2 separate regions of the Homo sapiens genome follow, and region 1 is linked to region 2. The links come from fine-mapping of genetic effects on gene expression. A gene starts in region 2. The other region holds a variant in brackets. All regions are shown on one strand. Distances are from middle to middle. Region 1 holds the start of CHROMR (cholesterol induced regulator of metabolism RNA). Region 2 holds the start of PJVK (pejvakin).

The links.
Region 1: its variant is fine-mapped to the expression of PJVK in whole blood (TOPMed, PIP 0.97).

Annotation. Positions count from the first base shown.
Region 1 is chr2:178,411,711-178,428,674 of GRCh38, reverse strand. It overlaps CHROMR (cholesterol induced regulator of metabolism RNA), which reads right to left and starts at 15,016. Exons shown (of 5, transcript NR_110204.1): 1 at 14,562-15,016; 2 at 2,014-2,309. RefSeq lists enhancers at 13,525-14,099, 13,887-14,146, 14,648-14,847, 14,677-15,252. The variant AAGAG/G (reference allele first, on the strand shown) is at 9,108.
Region 2 is chr2:178,443,497-178,455,862 of GRCh38, reverse strand. It overlaps PJVK (pejvakin), which reads right to left and starts at 4,485. Exons shown (of 7, transcript NM_001042702.5): 1 at 4,094-4,485; 2 at 2,243-2,475; 3 at 1,336-1,531. The coding sequence starts at 2,453. PRKRA (protein activator of interferon induced protein kinase EIF2AK2) reads left to right here and starts at 4,688. Exons shown (of 8, transcript NM_003690.5): 1 at 4,688-4,897; 2 at 5,452-5,621; 3 at 8,277-8,358; 4 at 11,363-11,441. The coding sequence starts at 4,833. It also overlaps the pseudogene NUDCP2. RefSeq lists a silencer at 4,416-5,195 and an enhancer at 4,958-5,532.

The DNA of each region.
Region 1 (16,964 bases), 29 kb after region 2:
TTCTGTTACTCAAGAGGCTGAGGCCAGAGGATAATTTGGGTCCAGGAGTTCAAGGTTACAGTAGCTTACTGTGCCACTGCACTCCCAGCCTGGGTGCAACTACACACTCAGCCTTAGTGACAAAGCAAGATCTTGTCTCAAAAACAAACAAAAACTCAGTGTGAGGGCCAGAAAGCCTCCCTCGTAGAATATGAGACTCTCAGGTTCTCAAGCCAATGAGGAGAGGAAGCTGAGGACCAGGCCCAGGACTTAGTCATGAGAATAAAACTCCAAAGAAGTTAGGACCCAAGCTAGGCAGGTCTACTGTGCTGTTGTCAGGACCCTGATTGGGAAAAAATGGAACCCTGACACATGGGATGAAACCATCTGGGTTGATGCACCTGAAAAATCTTCAATCCTCAGGTTTCCAGAACCTTCTAAGGCTACAGAAGTGCCCCTCTCTTCTCTAATAAGGGCTAGTGTGCTCCCTCTTTTGCTTGAAGACAATGAGCTCTCTCTCCAAGGACAAAACATACACTCCTCAGGATCCTCCCCAACTTCCTCTCTTGGCAACTAAGCCAATTAAAAAAAAGTTAAACTGGCGGGGTGCAGTGGCTCATGACTATAAATTTAGTACTTTGGAAGGCCGAGGAGGGTGGATTCCCTGAGGCCAGTAGTTCAAGACCAGCCTGGCCAACATGGTGAAACCCTGTCTCTACTAAAAATACAAACATTAGCCGGGCAAGGTGGTGCGCGCCTGTAATCCAGTTACTCGGGAGGCTGAGGCAAAAGAATTGCTTGAACCCAGGAGATGGAGGTTGCCATGAGTAGAGATTGTGCCACTGCACTCCAGCCTGGGCTAAAGAGGGAGACTCTGTCTCAAAAATAAATAAATAAATAAATAAATAAAAATAAAAAATAATCATGACCCCTTGTCCGATTTCCAGACCTGAGTCCGTTTTTGGATCCAGGCCCATTAACTAAAGAAGAATCTGGGTCCCCAGGAGGAAGGATTGTGTAATACCACAAGTGTGCACAATAATGATTCCTCTAGTCCTTCTCCAAAGGGACCTATCACCATTACTCAGGAAATCATACAGTGGTGAAAGGGGAATACTCAACATTTTGATATCTGTTGGAAACAGGGTCTGAGTTAACAATGATATCACAGAACTCTCACTATATGCCCTTGATTAGAGTAAGGGTTATGGAGGCCAAGTCCTAGGGTGTCCTGGCCCAAGTCTGGCTCACAATATATCCACAGACCCACCTAGTCCTTGAGTGTATAATTGTGATAAATACACTTGATTAGTGGCACCAGGTTTCTCGGTGTGTGTGGTAAGAGCTAACATAGTGATAAAGGCCAAGTGGCCAGGTGGAAGCTTTAAAAATTGACCTCTTCTCCATACCAATACAGTAAATCAAAAAATAATATTTCAGGGAATGGCAGAAATTAATGCCATCCTAAAAGACCTAAAAGATTCGGGGATGATGGTTCAAATTGTATCTCCATTTAATTTACCAGTCTAGCCCCTCCAAAAACCAGATAGTGGGCTACCACAAACTTTATGAGGTAGTAGCTCCAATTGTACCTACAGAGACAGCTACAGGCATCTTTGTTAGAGCAGACCCACATGGCATCAGGTGGACTTCTAGTTCAAAAATGGCAGTGTAGACGCAAGCTGGCTTCACTTCCACACCAGAAAACCAAAAACAAATATACAGCACTGAGATTATCACCAACAATATCCCAGAACTCAGATATGAGGATGAGTCAATTCCTGGGGACACAGAAGTGAAAAAACTCTGAGCATGGTAAAAGAATCAGATTTTTATATCTGTGGTGCCCCTTGCCACAATCTGTCCAGCACCAAGTGTGTGGAAAACTTTCCCCAACTCACAGTTTCTACAATGGAAAAAGTGAGATCAAGGTAGACAACCAACCTCCCTACCATCCTGGATTCCCTGGAAAGAGACCTGTCCCTGACTCACCCCATGGGAAGTATCATGAGTACCTTGAGGGAAAAACATTACCGAGGACAACCAGAGACAAAGGGAGGAGGCAGGACTTCAATCCCCAGCCCTGGAAACTCTGCTCTGTAACTTGATCAAAGAAGATGCCAGATCAGAGTGGTTACTCAGCAGCACCAGCTGTAGGAGATGCATTCCACAGATCCTCTTGGCACAAACCTTTAGCCGGCCTTTCACACTGCCAGGATATCCGCTTTGGGACCTCCCCCATTTGAGAAGGGCATCACTCTGATGAGTTTCTAGAGTGGAGGCAAACCTGGGCTTAAGGTGCCATCAAGTTCCAAAAGGGAGACAGTGACCTAGTGGGAAAATAAGAAATTTAACAGATAAGTCACAAAGAATCTCTAAGCAAACATCCCCGACAGAAAACAAAACAATCAAGACAGAGAAGACTGGAATAAATAATCCTTCAATGCAAAGATATGGACGTACATCCACAAGAAAAACAACAGCAATAGGGAACCATGACCTCCCCAAATGAATAAAGCAAGGAACAAGTGTCTGAATCTAAGAAAATGGTGATATGTGAGCTCTCTGACCAAGAATTCAAAATAGCAGTTTTAAGGAAACTCAGTAACCCCCAAGATAACACAGACAAGCAATCTATAAGTTTATCAGAGAAATTTAACAGATTAAAATAATTTTAAAAAAGCAAAATTCTCATTACTGAGAAATATATTTGCTGAACTAAAAAAAAATTAGATGAACCACAGAATGGATCAAGGAGAAGAAAAAGTCAGTGAGCTCAAAGACAGGCCATTTGAAATTACACAGTGAGGGGGAGAAAAGAAAAAAGAATGAAAAAGAATGAAGATCACTTACAAGATATAGAAAATTATCTCAAAAGACCAAATCGAAGAATAACTAGTGTTCAAGAAAAAGTTGAGCAACAGCAAGGGGTAGAAAGCTTATTCAAAGAAATAATAAAATTTTTTTCCCAAAACTTAAGAAAGATATAAATATCCAGGTATGCAGGTCAGAGAACACTAAACAGATTCGACCCAGATAAGACTACCCGTAGGCATAGTCGAACTCTCAAAGGGCAAGGACAAAGAAAGGGTCCTAAAAGCAGCAAGAGAAAAGAAGCAAATAACATAAATTCCAATTCATCTGGCAACAGACTTCTCAACAGAAACCATACAGGCCAGGAGCAAATGGGATGAAATTTTCAGTGTTGAAAGAAAAAAATGTCTGCCACACAAGAATACTGTATCCAGCAAAGCTATCCTTCAACCATCAAAGCAAGATAAAGTCTTTCCCAGATAAACAAAAGCTGAGAGAATTCACCACCATGAGGCCCATCTTAAAAGAAATGCTAAAGGGAGTTCTTCAATCCACAAGAAAAAAAAAAAAAACACCAATGTGCAAAAACAAAAACATTTGAAGGTATAAAACCCACTGATGAAATTAAGTACAAAGACAATCCCCAAATACTTCAATACTGAAATTGTGGTGTGTAATCCACTTATAACTCTAGTATGAAGACCAAAAGACAAACCTACCAAAAACAATAACAGCTACAGCAACCTGTTAAGAGATAAGCAATATAAAAATATGTAAATTGAGACAAACAAAAGTCAAAATGTAGAAGGGATGGAGTTAAGGTATAAAGGCTTTTTTTTTTAGTTTTTTCTTTTCTTTTTTTTTTTTTTTAATCTAAGATAAGTTGTCATCTCTTTAAGATGACTTGGTATATCTATGTTTTATGTAAGCCTCATGGTAACCACAATGTAAAAACCTATAATAGACACACTAAAAATGAAAAGCAACAAATTAAAACATACTCCAGAGAAAATCACTTAACCACAAAGGAAGACAATAAGAAAGGAAGAGAGGAATTATAAAACAACAATTAGAAAACAAGCACAAAATGACAGTAGTAAGTCCTTACTTGTCAATAATAACACTGAATGTAAGGGGACTCAATTCTCCAATTAAAAGGCTGAACTGATAAAGAAACAAGCCCTTAACTATATGCTGCTAACAAGAAACTTACCTCCCCTGTAATGACACACATAGACGGAAAGTGAAGGGATGGAAAAAAAAATCTATGCAAGTAGAAATCAAAAAAGATCAAGAATAACTATACTCACATCAGATAAAATGGACTACAAGTCAAAGACTATAAAAAGAGACAAAGAAGGTCACTATATAATGACAAAAGAGTGAATTCAGCAAGAGGATATAATAATTTATATATCTACGCACCCAACACTGGAGCACTCAATTATACAAAGCAAACATTAATAGATCTAAAGGGAGAGATAAACTGCAATACAGTAATATTAGGGGACTTCAACACCCCATTCTCAGTAACAGATAAATCATCCAGACAGAAAATCCACAAAGAAACTTTGGAGTTAAACTACATACTAGATCAAATAGGCCTAACTGACATTTACAGAATATTTCACCCAACAGCTACAGAGTGCAATGGTGTGATCTTGGCTCACCGCAACCTCTGTCTCCCGAGTTCAAGCAATTCTCCTGCCTCAGCCTCCCAAGTAGCTGGGATTACAGGCATGCACCCCCATGCCCAGTTAATTTTTGTATTTTTAGTAGAGATGGGGTTTCTCCATGTTGGTCAGGCTGGTCTCGAACTCCCGACCTCAGGTGATCCACGCACCTCAGCCTCCCAAAGTGCTGAGATTATAGGCGTGAGCCACCATGCCCAGCCCAGAAGACACATTCTTTTCTCATTATCCAGAACAGACCATATTTCAAACAAGTCTCAACAGATTCAAAAAAGTAGAAATCACAACATGGCACCACGTATACAATATGCAGCTGTTGATCTGACAAATGCATCCTTTCTATATTAGAAAAGAGGATCAGAAACACATTACCTTGGATCAGACAATAGTGAACATGTATAATCTTCTTAGAAGCATGTTAACTCTTCCAGCTTTTATCATAATATAGTCTGAAGGACCAAGACCAGCTGGGCATCTTGCAGAACATCACTGATTCACTATATCAATTATACCATGTTAACTGGACCAGAAGAGCAAGAAGTAGATAATATATTGGAGCTACCGCACATATACTCCGAAGGTGAGAGACAAACCCTACAAAGATTCAAGGAACTTCTACTGGTGGCTCTCTAGTGGGTCCACAGTCCAGGGCATGCCAAGATATGCCTTCCAAAATAAGCAACAAATTATTGCATTTTGTACCTCTCACCATAAAGAAGGTAGCATAAAAGAATGATAGGTTTCTATGGGTTCTAGAGGCAGCATATGCCATAGCAGGAAATACTTGCTGTTACCTATACACTGGATGACATAAAAGGCTTCCAATTTCAAGTGGGACCCAGAGCAGAAAAGGGCTCTGAAGCAGGTCCAGGTGGCAGTTTTACCACTTTGCCATACCACCCAGCAGATGCTGTTGTATTAGATATATAGGAAAAGATTCTGTGTGGAGTTTATGATAAGTCCTAATGGGAAAATCACAATGCAGACCCAAGAGTCTGGCCATGCTATCTGTAGCAGAGAAGTAAACACCTTTCAACAAACAGCTGCTGATGTGCTGCTGGGCTTTTATAGAGATATAGCACCAGACAAAGGGATGTCAAGTAGCCATGAAGCCAAGAACAATGATCATGAGCTGGGTTCTATACATGTAGAACACAAACATAGGCAAAGGGCACAGTATGTTACATTAGCAAGCAGCCTAGACTCCCATGTCTCTACCACTGTTGCACCAGTGTCTCTCCCTTGGCTTACATTTATTGTCACTGATCCCATATGACGAGCTGATGAAAGAGGAAAATGCATGAATTTGACTCACAAATGGGTATATTTTGGCAAACAAAATAGATGGTGTCTATAGTACTGTGCCACTCAGGGGTGGCCCTGAAAGTCAATGGTAAGGGAAAATCCTCCCAAAGGGCAGACCTTCGGGCAGTATACTTTGCTGTCCATTTGTGTAGAAAGGGTCTCAAGGTTAGAATATACATGGGTAGTGGCAACTGGCTTGGTCATGGGATCAGGGTCCTGAAAATAGACTAAACTACTGGGAACAAAGAGATTTTGAGATAAAAATGGTGGATTGGGCACATGAGAGTGGGCACAAAGCGTTAGGAGCTTTGTACTGCGTTTGATCTATACTACAAAGTATCCATAATGGAAAAGGCCCTGAACAACCAAGTCAGTATCAGGACTTGGCTGGTTAATAACATCCAGCATCTGGCATTGGAATAACTACTGTGGCAGGATTGGAGGCTATGTAACAGACCTAACAGGATGCGCTCCTATACACTGAGGCTGATCTAGTTATATTCACTGCTGAATTTTCAGCCTGCTAACAACAGAGACCAATGCTGCAATGCTGAGTGCCTATTCCTCAAGAAGACCAATCAGTCACTTGGTGGCAAGCTGACTTACAATAATGATCCTAACAAGACGCAGTGACTCATTTTGACAGGAATAGACACATATTCTAAATGATTCTCCTTTTCTATCTGCAGGGCATTGGCCAGCATCACTGAGGGCTTTCAGAGAGTTTGAACTACCTCATGGGACCTGTTTTATAGCAAAGGAGGAAAGAGTGGGCAAACGACCACAGCCTCTGCTTGTCTTATTATTACATGCTGCATCACCCAGAAGCCTCTACCCTGATAGAATGAATAATTAACTTGTTGAAGGCATACCTAACACGAACACCATCCTTTAAGATGAAGTGGACACTTTAATGGTCTTTATGTAGGGCTGTGTTCTTAACAGGTAGAATACATGGGTCCAGGAATCAAGAGGTAGAAGCAGGAATGGCCCTGCTTTCTATCATTCCCAGTGATTCTCTTGGGGGAAATTGTGCTTCCTGGCTCCACAACACTGGGTCCTGTCATTTAGAGGTCCTGCTTCCTAAAGGTGAAACACCTCCACCAGCAGATGTAGTTTATAGTTCAGTGAGACCCAAGAAGAGACTCATCAGTTTCATTGAATTATAAGCTACATCTGCGGGCTAGGTACTTCAGGTTCCTTGTACCAAGAAAGTAGCAGGCAAAAAGAGGAGTCACATCCTGGCAGGGATAATGGATCTTATCATAAAGAGGAGGTAGGACCACGGTTACAGTTGGAGGAAGGAGGAAAATGTTGGTAACCAAGCACTGCACGTATGCACCTCTTGGTATGCTCTTGCCCAATTCTGATTGTAAACGGACAGTGTAGCAGCCATTATGAGCCTAAAAAGATTATAGGGACCGGGGACTCTGAGCCTCTAAGGATCAAGGACTGAGTTTTATCACCAGGTAAGTCACTGAGACCAGCTGAGAGTGTCACTGCATCCAAGGTCACCCCCATCTTTGGGTTCCTTGCATCCAGTGACTGGGCAACAAAGTCCTGACCTTCTTGCTCCAATATGGGACATCAAAAGGGCCAACCAGCTTTAGAGTTTCCCATGGGGTCAGCTGAGAACACTGTTGACACTGTATCACAACCCAAGTCCTCCTTCCACCCAATCCTGATTTCTTTCCATTCCTTCCACGGATGATGATCACAAAAGCATTCCCTAATAAACCTTCTGCCTACTGTCTCCTGAGTCTGCTCCCTGAGAGTCCCACCTGAGATATGGAGTTATAGTTTAGTGAAAAAAGATGATAAGAATATCATATAAATCACATAATTTAAGATATATAAAATTACAAGTCAGCATTGGAGATACTCTGGATTCTCTTCAGATCATATATCTTTTGCCTTTTATTAGAATTTCTAGAGAGAGGATAAATTATGAGTTTGTAGCCAGTTTTTTCTTTGCTTTTTATTTTTGGCAGGGTTGCTATGGTTTGGATATGGTTTGTTTGTCCCTTCTCCTGCAAATCTCATGTTGAAATTTGATTCCCAGTGTGGTGGTGTTGGAAGATGGGGTCCAATGGAAGGTGTTTGGATCATGGGGGTGGATCCCATATGAATAGATTTATGCCTTCCCTTAAGGATGAGTGAGTTCTCACGCTATTAAATCCCAAAAGAGCTGGTTGTTAAAAAGAACCTGGCACCTCTTCCCCACCCCTGCTTCCTCTTCCCCAGCCCTGCTTCCTCTCTTGCATGTGATCTCTGCACACACCAGTTTCCCTTTACCTTTGCCATGAGTGGAAGCAGCCTAAGGCCCTCACCAGATGCAGAAGCCCAATCTTGAACTTTCCAGCCATCTAAAATCAGGAGCCAAATAATTTTTTTCTTTATAAATTACCCAGTCTCAGGTATTCCTTTAAAGCAACACTAAACAAACTAAGACAAGGTTTCTGTAGAGAGTGTGTGTATGTGCCGCGACAAAAAATATTTGCATTTTCAAAAGATTTCTTTCAACATTATCCAAAACAGTATGTAGGAAATGAAATAGAAATTATGCTAATTTGAGGACAATGTCCACTGTGAGTAATGCTGCATCTAGAATAACACTGCATCTCAAGGTCCAAAGAAGTTAAAAAACATGAAACAGCCCATATTGTAATATGAGTTCTAAAAAGGATAGTTTCGTGGAAGTTTCAGAGTATTATAACTAAGCAGCAGCTCTTACTACATTGAAAAAATGAATTTAAGGCAATAAATTATAGCTTTACCTGAAAAATTGTAAACTTGTGGAAATTACTGAAGATGTGGTCTACTCAGAACATTTACAAGCTTGACAACATATTCAGAATTACCAGCTTGACAGTATATTGAGATAGCAGATCATGATGGCTTTCTGCCACAAATACAGCTGATATCAAAAAGGAGACGATAACAATAAGCTAAGTCTTAAATTTCTTGTACTTAATTTATCATTTTCTGATTTCCTCATTTCCCTCAATAATTTTTTTAGATTAAGACTTATCAAAAAGGCCATCTGCAGAGAACAGTGTGTAATGAAGATCTGATAGCTATTCAGTCAATTTGAATATTAGAGAGGGTGAAGTAGATGGATTGGAATATGTGGGTTTTTTTTGCTTCACTGCTTGGGCTGGGGCAAGAGTGGGACATCGTGGAGAGAAGACCTGAATAAACTAGTTTTTCTTTCTATGCTGATCTGAGTGAATGGATAGCTGCCACATGTTTATAGCATTCTGTGCTAATAGATACAGTAGAGGTTTGAAAAATATTTACATATATCTCACCAAAAAA[AAGAG/G]GCAGAAGACAGAGGCAAACTGTTTTCAAGTATATGAGCTAAAACCAAAGAAAGGCTTGGACTTACAGATGTCTCCAGTCATAATTTTTTAAAATAAGATGAACAATTGGAGCACATTTAGATGGCAGATTAAGAATTAGATAGTATAGTAAATGCTGGGTTCTATTACAAATATTTACATTCTTATTTATGAGCTTGTGCTTTCATTCTAGTGCAATCTCCGTTATGGCCAGATGGGTGTGTTACTGCACAGGATTTATTTGAAATTCAGAAACTGACAGTACCTGTGCCTGATTGCTTGGTTTATTTTATTCATTTTATCTCATATTTCTAGTTAAGAAAGGTAGTTTTAATGGCAAAAGAAAGCAGGCTAAGGATTTAATATTTTGTTCATGCACTTAATAAAGGACTTAAGCAAATGCTTTGTTTTTATTTGTTAATAGTAGGACAGTAATAAAAATTAGTGTTAATAAAGATCAACTCACATGATGGGACTTTTGCTTTGAAACACTGGGCTAGGAACAAATTCATACTGAGCTTTAGGATTTTAAAGAATAATTTAGCTAGACTTTATTAAGGATTGACTATGTTACCTACACTGGACAAAACATTTTACATACATATATAAAGCCATTTTTCTAAGAAGCTGTACAGAACAATAATTAAGTGAGCATCTCTAAAGACAGACTGCCTGGGTTTGAATTCAAGCTCCATCACAGGTAAACGGCTGTGTGATTTGGGGCAAGTTGCTTAACCTTTCAGTTCCTCAGTTTCCTCATCTCTAATTTAAGGGTAACTGACTTCTGCTTCCAAACATGATATAATAACATGTGTGGGCTAGCCCTCCTTTCACTGTAAACAACTTTAAAACTGGACAAAAGACAGAAGGCAGCTCCTTTCAGACATTGTATATGATAAAGAAAAAAATTACTCAATGAGGCAAGGTACAGTGACTCACTCCTGTAATCCCAGCACTGTAGGAGATTGGGGCAGGAGGATTGCTTGAAATCAGGAGTTTGAGATCAGTCTGGGCAAATAGTGAGATCCGCATCTCTATAAAAATAAAAATAATTTAAAATATTAGCTGGGTTTGATGGTACCCTCCTGTAGTCCTGGCTACTTGGGAGGCTAAGGTGGGAGAATCACTTGAGCCCAGGAGTTTGAGGCTGCAGTGAGCTATGATTGTGCCACTGCACTCCAGCCTGGTGACAGAGCAAGACCCTGTCTCCTGAAAAAAAAAAAAAAAAAATTTTTAAATGATACTTGTTAAAGCACAATAAGGCAGATTTTAGGACTATCTCAAAAGGTATAGGGACCGTTACAATGGGATTCTGCAGTAGGGGAGAGAGGTTAGGTTCAGCTATGAATATAGCATGGGCAAGAGGGAATTTATAGCCAAGGGGCAAGGTAGTGGCAGTGGATAGACAATTACTAAGAGGAAACATCAAGGGTAAGGGGAATTCTGCCTAAACCAACCAATCTAACAGGATTCTTGCGAAGTCAGACCAGATTAATCAGATGTCACCTGTGGGATGGTAGAGGCTGAGGAACCCAATCAGATATCAAGGGTGATCAGATATCAAAGGTGGGGATTCTTGCTAACCCAACTAAGCAGCGTTCTTGCTACAACTGGCTTTTACATGGAAGTGCACAGATGGGCTTAGTAGAAGGCTCAGGAGCCTGATTAAAGTTTGGGGCCAAGCAAAGAATCTTAGACAACAGCACAGATTGCTAACCTGAGAGAGGGGAAACACATGAGATGATCCCCCTGGTGGCCCTAGATTTCTGCTCAAGAGCCCATTTTGGACTGCAGAATGGAAAAGTGAAGTCCAGAGAGACCTCAGGGATGCTGAATTGCCTAGAGTAAGTAGGGTAGAGTACCTGAGGATAAGGAGTGGTGTAGAGAAGGAACTACAGAATCCTGCATAGGGATTCCCCTGAAGTCTTTAGCCAAATACAAAGCTGTGCATGTGCAGAGTAAGACTCTGTGAGGGCCAGCAGAGAACAGTTACCACTGATGAGTGACAAGCTGAGTCAAGATTCCACAAGTCCTCCAGTGTTGGAAAACACAGGTGATCAGCACTGTCCAGCAATATATATTCTGAATATGTGTCACGTTTTCCTGCTTTTCTGATTCTCTTATATTTTGATAGATTATATGCTGGACATTACAGATTCTACATTGCTGTGAATCAAGATTTTGTTGTCTTCCTTTAAAGAGTATTGAGTTTTTTTCTCACAGACAGTTAATTTAGTGATGGATCACATTGATTCTTATAGGAGGGGTATTTTAAAAGCTTTGTTAGCATGGGTTTAAAGTAGCGCCTTCCTAGAGACTAAAGCACCCCTATTCTTCAAGTATGACTCTTTCCACAGCATTGCAAGTCACGAAACCCGCCCAGATTCAAGAGGTGGGCCCAACTTTTCACGGGTAGAGTTAAAAAAAATCACATTGCAAAGGGTCTGCCTACAGGGAAGTATTGGAGACATTCTTGCAATGGATCTACCACAGTTCATTTCAATCTGTTTCTTCTCCACTACCCGCATATTTCTGATGCCAAGCAATAGGTCACATTCATATCATAGTGTGACCTCTGGCCCTGCTTTTATATGTAGGGTGTATGTGAACCCGCATAGTCACTAGTAGGAGTATTCCTAGAAACCATTCCAGTAGTGGTATGACCATTACTTAACTATACATGGATGTGACTACAAACCACATACATATATCCCATTAAACCCAAACTCAATGTAGTCTCAACTCAATTTATCCCTTGGCCAAATCCCAGAAATGCCCGTGATCACTCCAAAACTTTAAAGTCGGGGGTTGTGCCTAGCCAGAGCAAGGAAGAGTATTGGGATGGGAGACAAGAGGGAAGTCAGAGTGGGAAGAGACAGCAGGTCTAACTGTCAAGGGCCGAGCTTAGTTCCAGAGAGTTGAGGTGCCAGAAGTCAGAAAAGCAGTGAAGACAATAAGCCAATATGAAAGGAAGGGTCAAGGCTTTAATCCCATGCTGTGATAGAATGGCACCAATCCAGGGTCAGGTGGATCAGCACAGCTTTGCTGAGAGAACCCTTGAACAAAAGGCTCCTGCAGTTTTATGGACCCAGGGCCTGGGATGAGGAGAAGGTGAAGGACTTAGAGTGGAAAAGTACTCAGTACTGAGTCCGAGTGGGGAAAAGTGTCTTCAAGCTTCCTCCTGTCCTCCAATAAGGAGATGTCTGCAGGAGTCCCTGAGGAAGCTCTCCCTCTACATAGAGACCTCCAAATGGACCCCATAATGACTTGGTCACTCTGAGTCATTGTTCTCTGGCATCCTTAATTCCAATATTCTTCACATCACATGAACTCTTTGAGCCTCAGTTTCCTTACCAGTAAAATGGGGATAAACTGCTCTACCTTCCTCTCAGGTTAGAAAGATGAAATGAGATAATAAATGTGCAAATGCTTTGAAAACCTTGAAGATGCACAAATGTAAGCCATTTTCTCCTTAAAAAGTTATGAAATTGAGGTGGCCAACTCTAATATAAAATTCCCTCTGTAACATTTCAACTTAACAGGCTTTAAGGGATCAGCTAAGTAAAAAGCAAATGTTTTACCCAAGCACAGGATTCCAAGGTTATTTATGGCATTCTCTGAATCTCTGTAGTACTTCCTATTGTTACAATCTGTCCTGCATTGTCTGATGATGGCCTTTTATCTTAAATGAGGCTGAGACTTTTTGTTACTATTACATCGGCACTGTCTGAAAAAATATAATGCAAACCATATACATAATTTAAACATTTCTAGTAGCCACACTCTTTGAGAAAAGAAACTGATTGAATTATATTCTATTTAACCTAATATGTCAAAAACATTATCATTTTAACATGTAATAAATATAAAAATTATTAAGATATTTTACATTCTTTTTTACATACTATGTCTCTGAAATCCAGCCTATATTTTATATTTTACATTTACAGTACATGTCTTTTTTTCCTTTTTTTCTTGGAGACAGAGTCTTGCACTGTTGCCTAGACTGGAGTGCAGTGGTGCGATCTCAGCTCACTGCAACCTCTGCCTCCTGGGTTCAAGCAATTCTCCCATCTCAGCCACCCACGCTCAGCTAATTTTTGTATTTTTAGTAGAGACAGGGTTTTGCCATGTTGGCCAGGCTGGTCTCAAACTCCTGGCCTTAAGTGATCCGCCCACCTTGGCCTGGCCTAGCTGTCACTGACTTTGTAAGGAGTTTCTGCAAATGCTTCTTCAGACTTTTCCCACGTTTTTTAAAACCCCTATTTATATTACTACTTAATGGCAATTTCTTCCACGGTCACAGAGAACACAAAGACCTTTGATTTGCTCTTTCCACCACAGAATATCACTCTAGGAAAGCATTCCATCATAATGTATATAAGGTGCCTAAACTGTGCTATAATCTTAAGCATTACAGGGACTCAGAATGAGGTCGTTAAAGCAGTGTTTTCCAAAGCGTGTTCCGCTGACCTAATCCCATACTCAGCGTATGCAACTTGATATTTTAATTTGTACCCTAGTGATCTAGTCTTATGCCTTCTGGGTACATATTGCATCATATCTTTAAACACATCCAGCTTCTAGAATGGTGCTGTACACGCAGGAGGTCGTTGAGCTTCACCTTCCTGCTAATGACAAAATCAGCAATTGCCTTTAACCACAGGAACTTCAGCCCGTTGGTCACTAGGGGGAGACACACACGTGGTGGGCCTCTCCAGGCTCCTCAAATCCCGCCAGAGTCGCCACTGTGTAGTCTGCCCAGAGAAACCACACCCAGTCTTAGGAAGAGGAAACTGACTGCCATCCATTTCACGCTACTGTGGCCGGCGAGCTCAGAGTGGAATCATTTGCAAGGCAGCTCCTCCAAGAATAACCAAGCCGAGATCTAGCTGATCAACGATTGAATTTAGAGTAAAACTTGACAGAATAAAACTCCCTTCGGTTTGTCCGTACTACCTGGGTTTGCAGAAATGCTTTTCCTTAGCATTTAATTTTGGGACCTGTAAATATAACTGCTTTTTAGATGCATTCCATAATCCTCAATTAACTTACTGCAGTAAAAAGATAATTAGGTTAATATAAACTGCTCCAAGGGGTTTCTGATCAGACTGAATTTTATTTCATTTGAAATAAGGTCGTTGTTTAATCTTGCAAGTTAAATAATCTTGATTTTACGCTGAATAGGGGCCTGAGATAGATGAAAGAAAATTTCCTTTTCATACATGTGAGAAATAAACTGTTTCTTACACTCATATTCACAAGTGTGACCGTTAGTCCAAGTTGAGGCAATTAACATATTTAGGAAGAAAAAAACTTCCTCACAGAAGGATTGGCATTGGCCCTTCTGAACAGTATTGCAAAGTCTGAAGGAAAAACCCTATTGACACCACTTTCTAGCCAAATGCTATAGGACGATATCAATACTTACTGTACTGAGTGGGCATTTATTTAGTTATTTCACAGTGAAGATATCTTTTCTGGAAAATTCCTCATAAGAAAACTGAAATTCAAGCTCCTGCTCGTTCTTCAGCCACCGCTACTCGTTCCTGCTTTTTGTGCCCATAGGTTCTTCTGCCCAAAACAAAAGCTGTTAAATCACCGCGGCGGCGCTGACGTCAGGGAGCAGGGCCGCGAGGCCCCACCAGGTCGCCAATGAAGCCTCCCCTCGGCTCTGCCGGGGGCTTTGCGGGGCGCATAGAGGCTCCCAGGCGGATAGAGGCTCCCAGGCGGAGGAGTCCGGGAACCCCTAAAGACCCTTTAGGAAGCAAGGTCCGGAAAACCAAGCACGAGCAAGAGGCCCCGGGCGGCTGTATCCCTGCCCGGCGAATTCAGAGGGAGCGGGCGCCGCGGCCACCCAAGAGCAACGAAGACGGCGGCGCGGAGGAGAGGATGGGGAGGGGTGTGGGCCGCCCAGAGGCGCGGAAGCTGGGAGCACCGCGCGGCTTAGGAACTAAAATAAATGCTTGTCTGAATCTGCCCCGGGTGGGGGATGAAGGAACAAGGGCTTGGGAGGAGACCGATACATTTTAGAAATTGCCGGTGGGGGAGCCAGGGGCGGTGGCTCACGCCTGTAATCCCAGCACTTTGGGAGGCGTAAGGCGGGCTGATCACCTGAGGTCGGTAGTTCGAGAGAGACCATCCTGACCAATATGGAGAAAGAAACCCCATCTCCACTAAAAATACAAAATTAGCCGGGTGTGGTGGTGCATGCCTGTAATCCCAGCTACTAGGGAGGCTGAGACAGGAGAATCGCTTGAACCCGGGAGGCGGAGGTTGTAGTGAGCCAAGATCATGTCACTGGATGTTATTTGTTAATTTTTTGATGTACACTGCAAGATCACACAAGAAATGAAGCTATTAAGCCCAGGTATTGGGCCTTTTATAGGGGTGTTTTTTCATGGTGAATGGGTAAATATGTCTCTACTTTGTGTGCTTATTAAACAACCCTGACTATGTGGTCTTGAAAGGAGAGATCCTGCCTTAGTTTCGCCTCTCATTAGCCTTATGTGAGAGCTTTTTTTCAGAGACAGGCAACCAGGAATATTTATTCCAGAAGCAGTCATTGCAGTGGAGAATTTGGGGTTTGAATCATAGAAGACAGAACTAGATAAAATCCTAGATGTTACCTCCAATCCCTTCATTTAAAAATTTGAGGTCACCCAGGCCAGGTGCAGTGTCTCACGCCTGTAATCTCAGCACTTTGGGAAGCAGAGGCAGGTGGATCACCTGAGGTTAGGAGTTCGAGACCAGCCTGGCCAACATGATGAAACCCCGTCTCTAATAAAAATACAAAAACTAGCTGGGTGTGATGGTGCACACATGTAATCCCAGCTACTAGGGAGGCTGAGGCAGGAGAATTGCTTGAACCCGGGAGGCGGGGATTGCAGTGAGCCCAGATGGCGCCACTGCACTCCAGCCTGGGCGACAGCGCGAGACTCTGTCTCAAAAAAAAAAAAACAACAACAAAATTGAGGTTACCCAAATTAAGAGAATTGGTAGTTAAGACAGACCAAGATTAATAACTTTTAGACATTTGTAGACCCTAGTTATTGGGGGTGCTAGACTCTTAACACTTTTCCAAGAAAAGGGGTAAATCTTGTGTTTCTTAATTCGGAAGGAAAAAAAAAATCTACCACTTGCAATTTGGCATGGGCCAGAGGCAATATTATCAGTTATATGCCTCTACGGTGTGATATTGAGTGATATACATGGAGAGAATATGGGCTACATTTTATGGTTTACTGTTTTGGGGAAATGAGGCCTTTGACATGCAGGGTAATTATTGCTGGGGACTCTGCTCAATAGGAGGCCATCACCTGGGCCCCATGCCAAAGGGAAAGCTTGTAAATTCCACTTCCCTGGAAGGCTGATAACGTGTAATAATCATGACATGGATTACTTGGTCCTGTTGGGTCCCAGCTTGTGAGATTCTTTCTGATCAAAGTTACCATCATGGGCAAACTGTGGTTAAATAGGCTTTAATCTCTGTGTTCATAAAGTTCTATTATCCTGGTCCAAGAGATTGGCAGTCTATAACTTCCTTTTTTTTTTTTTTAACACAAACATGAAATTAACACTTTTTGCTCTAAACTAATTAAAGATTCACGGGAAGTTGCAAAGGTAGTATGGAGATGTCCCTGTACCTTTCACCAAGTCCTTCAGTGGTTACATCTTACATAAATATAGTGCAATATCAAAACAAGGAAATTAACAATGGTACAACATGGATATAGATGTCATTTTTTTATTTAAAAATTTTACTTGTGGTAAAGTACACATAACATAAAATTTACCATCCTAGGCTGGGCATGGTGGCTCATGCCTGTAATCC
Region 2 (12,366 bases):
AAATGTAATAATTTGTCTCTCCTCTCTATTTTCTTAAAACATGCTTATGCAGAATGTTTCACTCTGTCTGTTGAAAGTCTGTTGAAGGGGACTCTATTTGTTGCAGACAGATTGCTGTATTATTTAAATCTAATAATTAAGCAAATGTGTGTAGAGCCAAAGTAATTTTGTGGAACAATTAAAAGTTTTGTTTAAGCCAAGTGGTTTTTTTTTTTTTTTAGCTGGGCAAATCATTTTAATGTGTAACAGTAGGCCAACTGGGGAGGACAAGACCCCAAGCCCCAGCCTTTCTCCTGATGCCCTGGGACCTGTGTGCCTGGGCCAGTCCCATGCCTGCCCCAAGCCCTGAGGCCCACAAGTCCCAGAGAAGAGTGGGAAAGAAAGTTGGGTGGTTGCAGCTCAGCCCCAAGAGTTCAGGGAGGGAAAAACAGGGGCTAGTTGAATTTAGCCTTGGAAAAATCCATCTCCGGATGCTGATCCATGAACTTCTTCAGAATCTCCTGTTTCTTCTGTTCGTCTGAGGTTGGCAGCCCCATGGACTTCTGTTACTGGTCATAGATTGTCTTTTCCACCATGATGTGAGTCTCACTGTCCAGGTCTGACAGCTTGGAATTCTCAGGGTTAATCTTCTTGGTATTGATCTCAGGGTCACTGGACACCAAGCGGCTCCACCACTCCATCTTCTTGATCTTCTCCAGATGCACAGTCACCACCTTGCCGTCCTCAATGAGCCACGAGCTCTCCTCCGCCTTCACTTCGTTGTAGAGCTCCCCATCGATGATCGCTGGCTGCCCCTTGAGCCCCACCTGGAGGTGCCGCCGTTGGATGCCACCACCACGTCCTTCCCTTTCAGCTGGAAGTCCACACAGAAAGGGACCGCCAGGTCCAGCTCCGACAGGGTCTTGGTCCAGCGGTAATCAGGCAGGTCTGCCCTGTTGCCTAGGTTGGGCTTCAGTTTTCCTTTGTCCTTCTCATCTTCCTCCTCCTCATCTTCCTCAGTCTTCTGCTTCCCTGGGGAGTCAAGGCTGCCATTCTTGATCTGGGCCTCATGATTCTCTGCATCCTATTTCTGGTCAATCTCTAGCTGCAGCCTCTCTGCCTCTTCATCAGTTAGCTCCTTGATCTGGGGCCCTGAGGTCTCTGACTTCAGCCAAGTGATTTTTGATATCTATCCTTATTCAAAGTTTGGATATACTACCAATGTATTTCAAACATATCTAGCAAATTACACTAGTAAAATACAACCTCAATGTTTTAAGCATTCTTTGTAATGAAGTTTATATACCTAAAGTATTTAATGAAAACACTGAAATATATTAGGATTATTATACTGACCGTGTAGTAATTTCTTTGAGTAATGTTGATACTTCCACTTCATGTTTGGTTACTATACCAAATGAAGCTTTCACTGCAATGGAATCTGATCCAGCAACGTTAATCCCAACGTCATTTACAATATGGTTACCTCGCCTTCCATAGAGTGAAACATCTGATTCATCTTCATAATTCAGTAATTGATAAGATGAAATACCTTTATAAGAAGAAACTCAGTATTTTTTAAACATCTTTATCTTATGTAGATTATATATAGTAACATGTTAAATTAACAATTGAAGACTCAAATACCCAAATGTTAGAGAAAGGCAACATGACTCACCAAGACTTAAAGTAGTAATTCAATTAATCTTACAACAAAAAGAAACACATAGCCAGAATTCTTAAAAGGAACTCAAATTTTCTATTCAGCCAACAGAACTTCTTAAGCATCAAGATCCACCGGGCAATTAAAAGAAAAAATAAGCGTTTATAAGTAGTAACTCATCAAAATATCAGCTTATTATATAACCTACCCTTCAATACATTTCAGTTTACCAATTGTAATAATTGAATTGTAAAAAATAAATACAAATTATTTTCATCTCATTTGACCATGTAACATAGGTAAGCCCAAATAATATCCCATTTTATAGATGAAGAAATATGTCATATTCTAAGTTGATTTGGTTAAAACAATTTATAAAATAATTGATAGATTTGAAAATTATTTGACCAATAAGAGATTTGATATTATACAAACTTTTGGCATTGTTAATCTTAATAATGTTATTACACTAACATCATAATAAAAGTTGCTTTAATCATTGAAAATGTGTATTACTAACATAAGTAGCATATATGACCTATGTTTAGGTTGCCAATAATACAGATGAATGAGTTGGCACTCCCAAACATTTAAACTTACCAGCTGAAATTTCTCTGTCTCCTAGGAGAATATCTTTCAGTGTAAAAGGTGTTGAAGTAAATTTATATCTAGGAAACAGAAAGCATCGCTTCTTTTTTACCACCAGACTTAGAGGTTGATATTTGTCAGCTTCACTGAGGCTTGGAACAGGAACTAATCTCCCTCCATCTCCAACTTGCTTGACAAAGCTCTTGGTAGCAGCAGCAAACATATTAAAATCAAAACGTCATCAACTGCAACCCCCAGATAAATCCATTTTTAAAGAGGAAAATCAGGCACAAAATTAAGCATTGCTTGTTTTTAAATATAATTATACATCTTAAAAATACAAAGCATGGTTTCACCAAGTAGTTTACCACTGTATAATTCCCTGCCTCTGCTCATGTGCTCAGGTAATGAATTATAGATCAACGGTGTAAAATGATATGCTAAGAGCATGTTTAACTTGGAATGGCAGGCTATAGCACTAAAATATACACAGAAAACTAATAACGTAAAAATATGACCAATGTCTATGATAAGGATCACAGTAGATAGTGATTTGCCACTGGCAATGGGCCAATTTTAAGGGAAGCATATAGTGCTGTGGGAAGCAATGCAATTTAGGCACTAACGATAGTCCCGGATACAATCTACAGTGGACCTAGTCCAAAGGGAATTCCTTCACAAGTCCACCACCGGAATTTTGGCAACACCAAAGTGCTGTTTTGAATCCTCATGGCATACAGCTCATTGATTGAGCATTTCATTCATTTTCCATCTTATATGCTTACAAAACTGTGTTTAATATTAAATATAAATTCACAGATATAAACAATTATATGCAAATCTTTATTTAAAAAATAAAGCCACATTACATATAAGTAACTATATAAACTATTACCTAGTGGTTTCTTACTCTGAAGTTGGGCACACAGACTCTCTCTCTTTGAAATGGAGTCCTGCTGCATCTTTTTGTTTCATTATTATCCCAGCTACTTAACCTTTAACAAGAGCTATATAAAGTTCTGGCCTGTTTTTAAGTAATTTTGTGGCAAAAAATGAATTTTACCTGAGTGCTGAAATGTTTTGCCATAGGTGTTATGCGGAGTTCATATATTGTGAAATACTGACTATGTAGCCCTTCCAATAAGATATCCATTAAAACAGTGATGGATAGTAATCTATATACATACATATATAGACGGAGAGGAAGAGAGAATAGGCTCTAATTAAAGCATCAGATGATATAATTTGATTAGATTCTGAACATCTTTCACTTGTTTCAAGCATCCAGGGCTTACATGCTAACAAAACAACAAATCGCTTTTTTTTTTTTTTTTTTTTTTGAGAGGGAGTCTGACTCTGTCGCCCAGGCTGGAGTGCAGTGGCGCGATCTCGGCTCACTGCAACATTTGCCTCCCGGGTTCAAGCGATTCTCCTGCTTTAGCCTCCCGAGTAGCTGGGATTACAGGCGCATGCCACCACGCCCGGCTAATTTTTGTATTTTTAGTAGAGACAGGGTTTCACCATGTTGGCCAGGCTGGTCTCGAACTGCTTACTTCAGGCGATCCGCCAGCCTCGGCCTCCTAAAGTGCTGGGATTACAGGCGTGAGCCACCGCGCCCGCCCATAAATCACTTTTAATAATATCCTTTCGTACGAATAGCATTGTGCAAGCAATCTTCCATAACACCGAGTAAGCACAGGGGAGCATTTCTGCTAGTGCCTAGCAAGCCCCTGGAGAAGCGACACGTCATCTAATGGCCCACCAAAGGTGCTGCATCCCAGGCAAACGCCATTACAACCGACTACCCAGGTCCCCGGAAAGGCCTTCGTTTACTCCTAACGTGTTTTGCTGGGATGCACTGACCCAGCGTTCCATCTCGCGACGAAAGCCCAGAAGACAAAGGAGCCCGCCCGGCGGGAGAGGAGCGGGTGTTTGGACGTCCCCGCGTGTTCCTAAACACAGGGCTCGGGGACCCGAAGAGCGCACCGCAGCCCCCTGGAGCGTATATATCCGGGGTCTCAAGCTTCAGGACCAGGCCCGGGAGACTCCCTGGAATTCTGCCTTCGTAATTTTAGAATCTTTTTCTTAAAGTGACCCAGCCCCCAATCCGTCCTCCCCACAAAGGCTTAACTTTAGGCCTCAACGACCCTAGACCCACGCCGGACAATCCCTCTAATCCCTCTCTCCCGGCAAGAAACGGCCTCCTGCTAAGGACAAAGAACTGCGGCCTAGGGGCCAGTTACTACAGGCTGGTCAGGGCCGGCAGGGGCGGGCGCGGAGAACCCCCGGGAGCCCAATGCCTGTGCCCACGCGGGAGCGGGGCGGAGCCGGGCGGGAAGGGGGCGGACCCTGGAAGGGACAGGGGCGGAGTTGGGCCGGGACGGAGGCCCGCAGAGGAGCAGCGAGGGGGCGTAGCCGGAGCTACGGCACCAAGGCTCCGCCCCCACCCTGCCTGCCCCCTCGCTGGAGCAACGCAAGCAGGAGGCGGGGGAGTCGGAGGAGGTGGCGGCGCTGGAGCTCCTCCCGGGGACCAGCGACCCGGGGAGCGAGCACGTCGCTCCGCACCGCTCTTCCTCCAGCCGCTGAGCCGTCCCTTCTCGCCATGTCCCAGAGCAGGCACCGCGCCGAGGCCCCGCCGCTGGAGCGCGAGGACAGTGGGACCTTCAGGTCAGCGTGCGGGCAGTCAGGGCCCCAGGGCCGGGAGCGTTGGGCGGCAGGGCCGGGGCGCGGGGAGCCGGCCCTCCAGAGGCATTCTGGGTAAAGCCGTGCCCGGCGCCCACGCCTCCGCGGCTGTGGGTGCTCGGCCCCGCCCTCTCGGCGGCGAGGGTTGGGGTCTGCGGCCGGGCCCCGCCCCTCTCGTGGTCCCTGGCGGCGCGCGGGGCGGGCGGAGGTGACGCTCGGTCGGCGCGCCCGGGAAGGGATCGTCAGGTTTTCCCTGAGAGGCTGCGGCGCTGCTGCCAGCCCTGTTCTGTTGAGAATCTCTCCTACCCGCATTCAAGTGCTCTCTCTAAAGACCTCGCTCACCCCGCCTGCTCCTGCGGAGTGACTGCCGCAGCGGGGCCGGAAGACAGGTGCGCCCCAGCCTCGCCAGCTCTGGCCCTGGCCTCCGGGGAACTCGGCGCCTCCCTCGTCACCGTCGGTGGCGGTTAAAACTGGCCTCTACGCTTCTGCTTCAATCTCCAATTTGGCATGCAAAGCACACCTTTTTGTGGTTTTTGCAGTTTGGGGAAGATGATAACAGCTAAGCCAGGGAAAACACCGATTCAGGTATTACACGAATACGGCATGAAGACCAAGAACATCCCAGTTTATGAATGTGAAAGATCTGATGTGCAAATACACGTGCCCACTTTCACCTTCAGAGTAACCGTTGGTGACATAACCTGCACAGGTCTGTATACACAGTTAACCTGGATGACCGAGTGGGTTGGCAGTCAATACTTGGTGTTGCTTTTCAGTTCGGAAAAGTTCTCTTTTTGCCAGACAGCTGTGAGGAACAGGCTCTGAAACTGAGACCTCTCATCTCAGGTCGTTAGGGCTTTTCAGCTGCATCTGATTCTCTTCCTAATTTTCTCTTCCCCACATACCAAGGAAGCTTAGAAACTAAAAAGTTACCCAGCCGGATGGCTGGATCCTGCATGGCTCTTCTCATACCCTAGGATCCTCCTAGGGTTCTTCTTAGAATTAGAGGGAAGCAGGAAAGGTTCTTGGAGCAGTCATAGCTGGGTCAGTAGGTACTGTGAAGTTTCATAGATTATAGCGGATGCCAGGAGGCATGACCCCAGAATTTTCTGAGCGTCTCTCCTCTCTGTATGGACTCATTTGGCACTTTAGGTCCATTGTGCTACTTTTGATTCTGTATCCAAACAAAATGAGGAAGGGGAGAAGGTCCTCATATATTACATAATAACTTCTAGTTTTTGAAACTGAACAGATATTTTGTATATTATCCACTTTTTAAACAAGAAGAAACAGGTTCAGAGAGATTATAAGTAACATGCGTATAGCAATGAAGTCACAAAGCAATGAAATTTTAAAGTTCATGCTTTCTTTTGGTCTGTGAGCTTGAGCAAATGATAACTAAAGTTGCTCATTTGTAAATGTGGACATTATTTTTCTTATGTATCTATTTAATTGCAAACACAGAAAACATTGGATGCTAAATTTAATTTGGAAGAATGCCAAGAAAAAAATTTAGTAGGAAGGCTCAAGTTCTACCATCTGGAAAATCTGAAGACAGCATTTGTTTGTGTCCCTGGAAGTTTGGAGTCTTTTATTTTAATTGATGCCACTTTAAGAAAAGTTTAAAACTTTTTGTGTGAGGCAGTTAGATTGTAGGTGCTGGCCGGAAGGGTCCCCATGGGAACCATAGAGTCAACACTGCATTACTTACTTTAGCTAGTCTATTTCTAGATAGGAAGAATTCAAGAAAAGGGAGGGTTTTTCCCTCTCAATGTGTTTTAGACCCCAAATTAACAACCTATGGCAACCGTTCTGCCTACGCCCTCTTCTCACACTACCATGGCTTCCTGTGCAAGCTTATCTGCCTCCATGGCTTCTGATACTGTCTAAAGACTAATATTCTGAAATGTCTGTCTACATCCCAAGCCCAGTTACAGAATAGTGTATCAGTCTGTGCTTGCTGAGCATCTTTGCCTGGATGACACAGAGGCCCCTCAAGCCTCTCATTGTCCCAAACTGAATCCATCTTTTCCCTCAAACCCATTCTTCTTGCATTCCCTTTCTATGTAAAGGCTCCACAATCACCTAGTTCAGTAGAAATGTAGGCTTTTGTCTTCCTAACTACTTCCCGTCTTTCTCCCTCTTGTCCAGTCTGTTATTAAACTCTATCCATTGGCGTTTAATAATCCACTAACTATCCATTGAATCTGTCGGCTTCTCTCTTCTGGCCATTGCTACTGCCTAGGCCACCATCATCTCTCACTTGGATTGTAGCTGCAGTCTTGTAGCTACACGTTTACCTTCTAGTCTTGTGATGTCCTTTTGTCACATTACAACCAGTGTTCATTCTTTTTTTTTTGAGACAGGGTCTCACTCTGTCACCCAGGCTAGAGTGCAGTGGCATGATCTTGGCTCACTGCAACCTCCGCTACAGCCTGCACTTAGGCTTGTTGTAACATATCCCATTCCATACTTCAGGTGCCTATTAACAGACAAAAATCCCACACTACTCTGTTGGCTCTTGAGGGCAGGGACCCTGTATGCTATATCCCTAATACCTGTGTTAGCAGATAAATATATGGTTTCTGTGTCTTCTTACACTTGAGGGCCACACTTGAAGGCCACACTTGAAACTTATTCCATGAGGGTATGGGAGTTTGAACTTAAAAGGAAAAAGATGGAATTTATCATTTGCCATTGTGATTGCTTACTGAAATTAGACATCAGTCTTATCCCCAGTCCCAACTTAGCTACCCATGCAGAAGATACAGACCGTCCAGAAGATACATAACAAGCTGTCACCTTATTCCATAAAACTCTTTCCTGTTGTACCCAACACATAATCATGACTGCTCAGCCTAGCAAAGCAGTTTGATACGTTATAGGACAGGCTGTCAGAATAAAATTATGCACATTTTGCTATCAAACAATTCTGCTGTAAATGGTTCCTTTAAAAGAAACTTCTTGCTGCAGAAGAATTTCCCCTCCAGGAATAAAGGAAGAGTAAAATACTAATCTGCATTTCTTCAGAGGTGTGACACGGTCTACTTTATTACCATGTTATATAATAAACATATATAATGTAGAAATAAGGATTTTTATGCAGGTATGCATAGAATTATATAGAACTTTAAAAAGTTATTTTTTAAAATTTTTTCACATGGTGAATATTTTATTACAGTATATAACCATGTAGTATATAACATGTACATATTTTTATGTACAGTATATAACGTACATATTTTTATTACCTAGTATGTGTATGTAAAATCTATAGTGACTTTGTTTTGTGTATTGAAAACATCTTTGTAAGCTGCACATTTTTGTGGGAGATAAAGACTTCTTTTTTTAAATCTTAATTCAGGTGAAGGTACAAGTAAGAAGCTGGCGAAACATAGAGCTGCAGAGGCTGCCATAAACATTTTGAAAGCCAATGCAAGTATTTGGTGAGCTAAATTTCTTTGTATTCAGCAGCTCAAAAATATCATGGCTGAGGTAAGATTAAAAATTTGAACATGCTTACAAAAGCAACAAAGTGAACAGTTGTTAGCATCCTACCTCTCAAATTCTATTTCCTTATGAAAACTTATCATCCATTAAAGAAAACTTTATCCAATCAAATCCAGCAATTAGCTATTAAATGAAGGTGCTCATGAACTAGGCTTTACTGTTTTTTTTTTTTTAATGGGATACAACAGTAGAAAATCAGTGCTTCTTGCAAATATTAATATTAACATTTTGTATTTAGACTTTGATTATTTCTACATTGAAGAAAACAAAGTGTGAGATGGAGAAAGATCCACTAAAAGTACTCTTTTGGGAATTCTAATTTTGAAGAAGCAGGCAGAGGTTTTCTTTTATTATATAATGTATACCAAAAGAAGAGAATGTTAAGTGGGATATTAATTCTTGACATATCTTTCTAAAGTAAGATTTTTTTTTTTTTTTTTTTTTTTTTGAGACGGAGTCTCGCTCTGTCGCCCAGTCTGGAGTGCAGTGGCGGGATCTCGGCTCACTGCAAGCTCCGCCTCCCGGGTTCACGCCATTCTCCTGCCTCAGCCTCCCAAGTAGCTGGGACTACAGGCGCCCGCCACTACGCCCAGCTAATTTTTTGTATTTTTAGTAGAGACGGGGTTTCACCGTTTTAGCCGGGATGGTCTCGATCTCCTGACCTCGTGATCCGCCAGCCTCGGCCTCCCAAAGTGCTGGGATAGATTTTTTACTACTTTAGGTGTTTCTAGATAGAATATTGGTCCTGGAGCATCTCACATATTAAAGTAGTGTCCACTGGGTGCACTCTGGAGCTTGGCATGCTTTCAAGTTCTTCTTGTGCATACACTTACATATGCCTGAAGTACGATCTGTGTAATCAGCTTATAGTTGACAGTAGAGACCCAGGGAATTTGGGATGGGTTTTTTGTTCCCTAGTCATAGAAAGGCTTTTGGATTAGGGGTGTAGTTAGGTTCTCATGTAGTATTCCTCTCTTTTTGTAAATCATTCTAAACCGTTTGGGTAGTTTAGAACTAACCAGTGACATGGCAACCCTCTAGATAAGCAGCTGCCCAAGACAAGCCTTGCATTTCACAAGATGATGCTTGATTCTCTAGGGTCATGCATTATAATTGATCTATGCCAGGCTGGGCGGGGTGGCTCACGCCTGTAATCCCAGCACTTTGGGAGGCTGAGGTGGGTGGATCACTTGAGGCCAGGAGTTCAAGACCAGCCTGGCCAACATGGCAAAACCCTGTCTCTACTAAAAATACAAAAATTAGCCAGGCATGGTGGCAGGCGCCTGTAATCCCAGCTACTTGGGTGGCTGAGGCACAAAAATCGCTTGAACCCGGGAGGCGGAGATTGCAGTAAGCTAAGATTGTGCCCCTGCACTCCAGCCTGTGAAACCCTGCCTCAAAGAAAAACAAGGCCAGGCATGGTGGCTCACACCTGTAATCCCAGCACTTTGGGAGGCCAAGGTGGGCAGATCACTTGAGTCAGGAGTTCGAGACCAGCCTGGCCAACATGGTGAAACCTCGTCTCTACTAAAAATACAAAAAATTAGCCGAGTGTGGTGGCACGCTCCTGTAATCCCAGCTGCTTGGGAGGCTGAGACACGAGAATTCCTTGGACCCAGTAGGCAGTGGTTGCAGTGAGCTGGGATCGCGCCATTGCACTCCAGCCTGGGCGACAGAGCAAGACTCTGTCTCCAAACAAACAAAAAAAAGACATGCCAAATGACATGGCAGGTATTGGGTTCTCCCCCACTGGTGATGGCCATGCTGTTTCTGTATAGCCTGAAGGTGAACCCAACCATTAAGTACATTTGTAGAAATGAGGGGTATGGAGTGTCCTTTCTGCATCTTGGCACTTTGTCAGCAAAAAAAGCTAACAAACTTTACTATATTTGTGCTTCTTGACAGATAAAATGGGAATTACTAAGCTGTAATCAGGCCTAAAGTGGCCTGACTTAATACAGAGACTTTCTCACTTCTCCATCACAATTATTTGGGTAGCTTCGGCATGCAGCATTGTAAGTGAATACTCATATCTCATCAGCCTATGTAAAGCTTGAAATTCTCACAGTTGGAAAAAAAAAACCTTGAGGAAGTGGCAATAACTAAACCTCATTTGTCATGGAAAAATGACTCCAGTTGCCTAGGTGGTACTAACCTTGAAATGCCGCTTATTCAGTTTTAAGTACTGACCTGCTAAGTAACTAGTAATTCCAGACTCCCTAGAAGAGGTTGTTCTCTTTTTCCCTAATCATAATCCCCACTTGCTAAAACCAAATTCATCTAAGCCATCTATTTTCTGCAGGATACATGTAAATCTTAGAGGATTATCCCAGCACTGAGCAGATGATAGATCAAACAGATCTCTCTTCATAGTTCTGTGGATGAAAAAACAGTATTTACACATAATCTGTATTATTCACATTGCCAGGCTAAATTTTCTGGATCATTGTTACTCTTCTGTTTTTTGTATAGTTGTAACAGAGTATTCTTTAAATACATTTTTATGGCATGCCTATTATGTACAAAACACCACAAAGCTTATGTAGGTAAGTGATACATAGGCCCTACCTCAAGGAGCTTACTGTCTGAACAGGGGAGAGGTGTGGTGAAGGATGGACAAATTATATGTATTTGTAAGAGTATATAATTTATGGTAAAACAATTTCAAGAAAGGATTAAACCATGTGTTATAATGTTTCAAAGAAGGGAGAGATTATAAACCACTGGGGTAAAAGGATAGGCTTCTTGGAGGAAGTGACATTTGAGATATATCTTGGATGACCGATCAGATTCCCATAGAAGAGGTCTGAGAAAAGGGCATTCCATGTAGAAGGAATGACAAGAGCAAAGACATAGAGAGTTAATTAGAAAATGCTTGTCATTTATTTCATAATTCGGGGGAAATTATTTTGTTTTATAACACTTTTAAAAAATATTTAGCTTTGCAGTTCCTGACCCCTTAATGCCTGACCCTTCCAAGCAACCAAAGAACCAGCTTAATCCTATTGGTTCATTACAGGTAAGTTGTACAGTTCTTTGCCTACTGATGAAATATATAATAAGTTTGTAATGTCAGAGGGGCTAACACAAGGAATTAATATTTTAAAGACAAGATAGTGATATATTTTGTTTTCCAACTTACGATCATTAGATTAACAGAGCTAACTTGAAATTATTTTCCTATTTATGTTCTGGGTTTTCTTTCATATACAGTATTTGCCTTTGGCTTATAGAATTCTCATTTAAGATCAACAGGCCCTCAGTGCACATGGGTAAAGTGTTTTATACTTTAAGAATAGTTCTTGCTACTCTTGTGACAAATCTCTTTCTACTTCTGTTGAGACAGAAGACTTTATAGAGAGCCTAAATCAAATCAGTGAACCTAACTGAAGAAAAGGAGTCTATTTGCTTATTCTACCAAAAAAAAAAAATTTTATCTATACACACACAAACACACACACATATATTCAGCTTTGAATTTCTATATGCAGAATATCCTTCTTGCAGATTATCCATGTGCTCTGTTAGGCCATTTCCCTCCCCATTATTCAGCCAGTCCTTTGGTCTCCTTTTCCTGCACAGTGAGCTTTTCTATAGTTTTCTTCACCTTCTGTCCCCCACTTTATGCAAGTCTGTTGTTTGCTGTCCCTACTCCTCATGTGTTCTTGGCCAGCTGTGGGTTTGGAAGTCTATAGCTAGGAGGGGAGGGACTTTAGGAACTGATGGCAGTGAAACCTGTAGATGGTCTCCTCTGGTGTTGCCAAAGAGGGCGGTAGTAGCCTGTTTTTCTAGTTGATGTCTGATACCAGCTCACTGTGGTTTAATGCAAGAACACCATTCGTAGCACAAAACTGCTTCAGTTTTGGTATTGGGGTATAAAAATATAAAATGCGGGAATGTCTTTGAGAAATAGAGGGTCTTCCCTCTTTTTTCTGTTGCAGAAT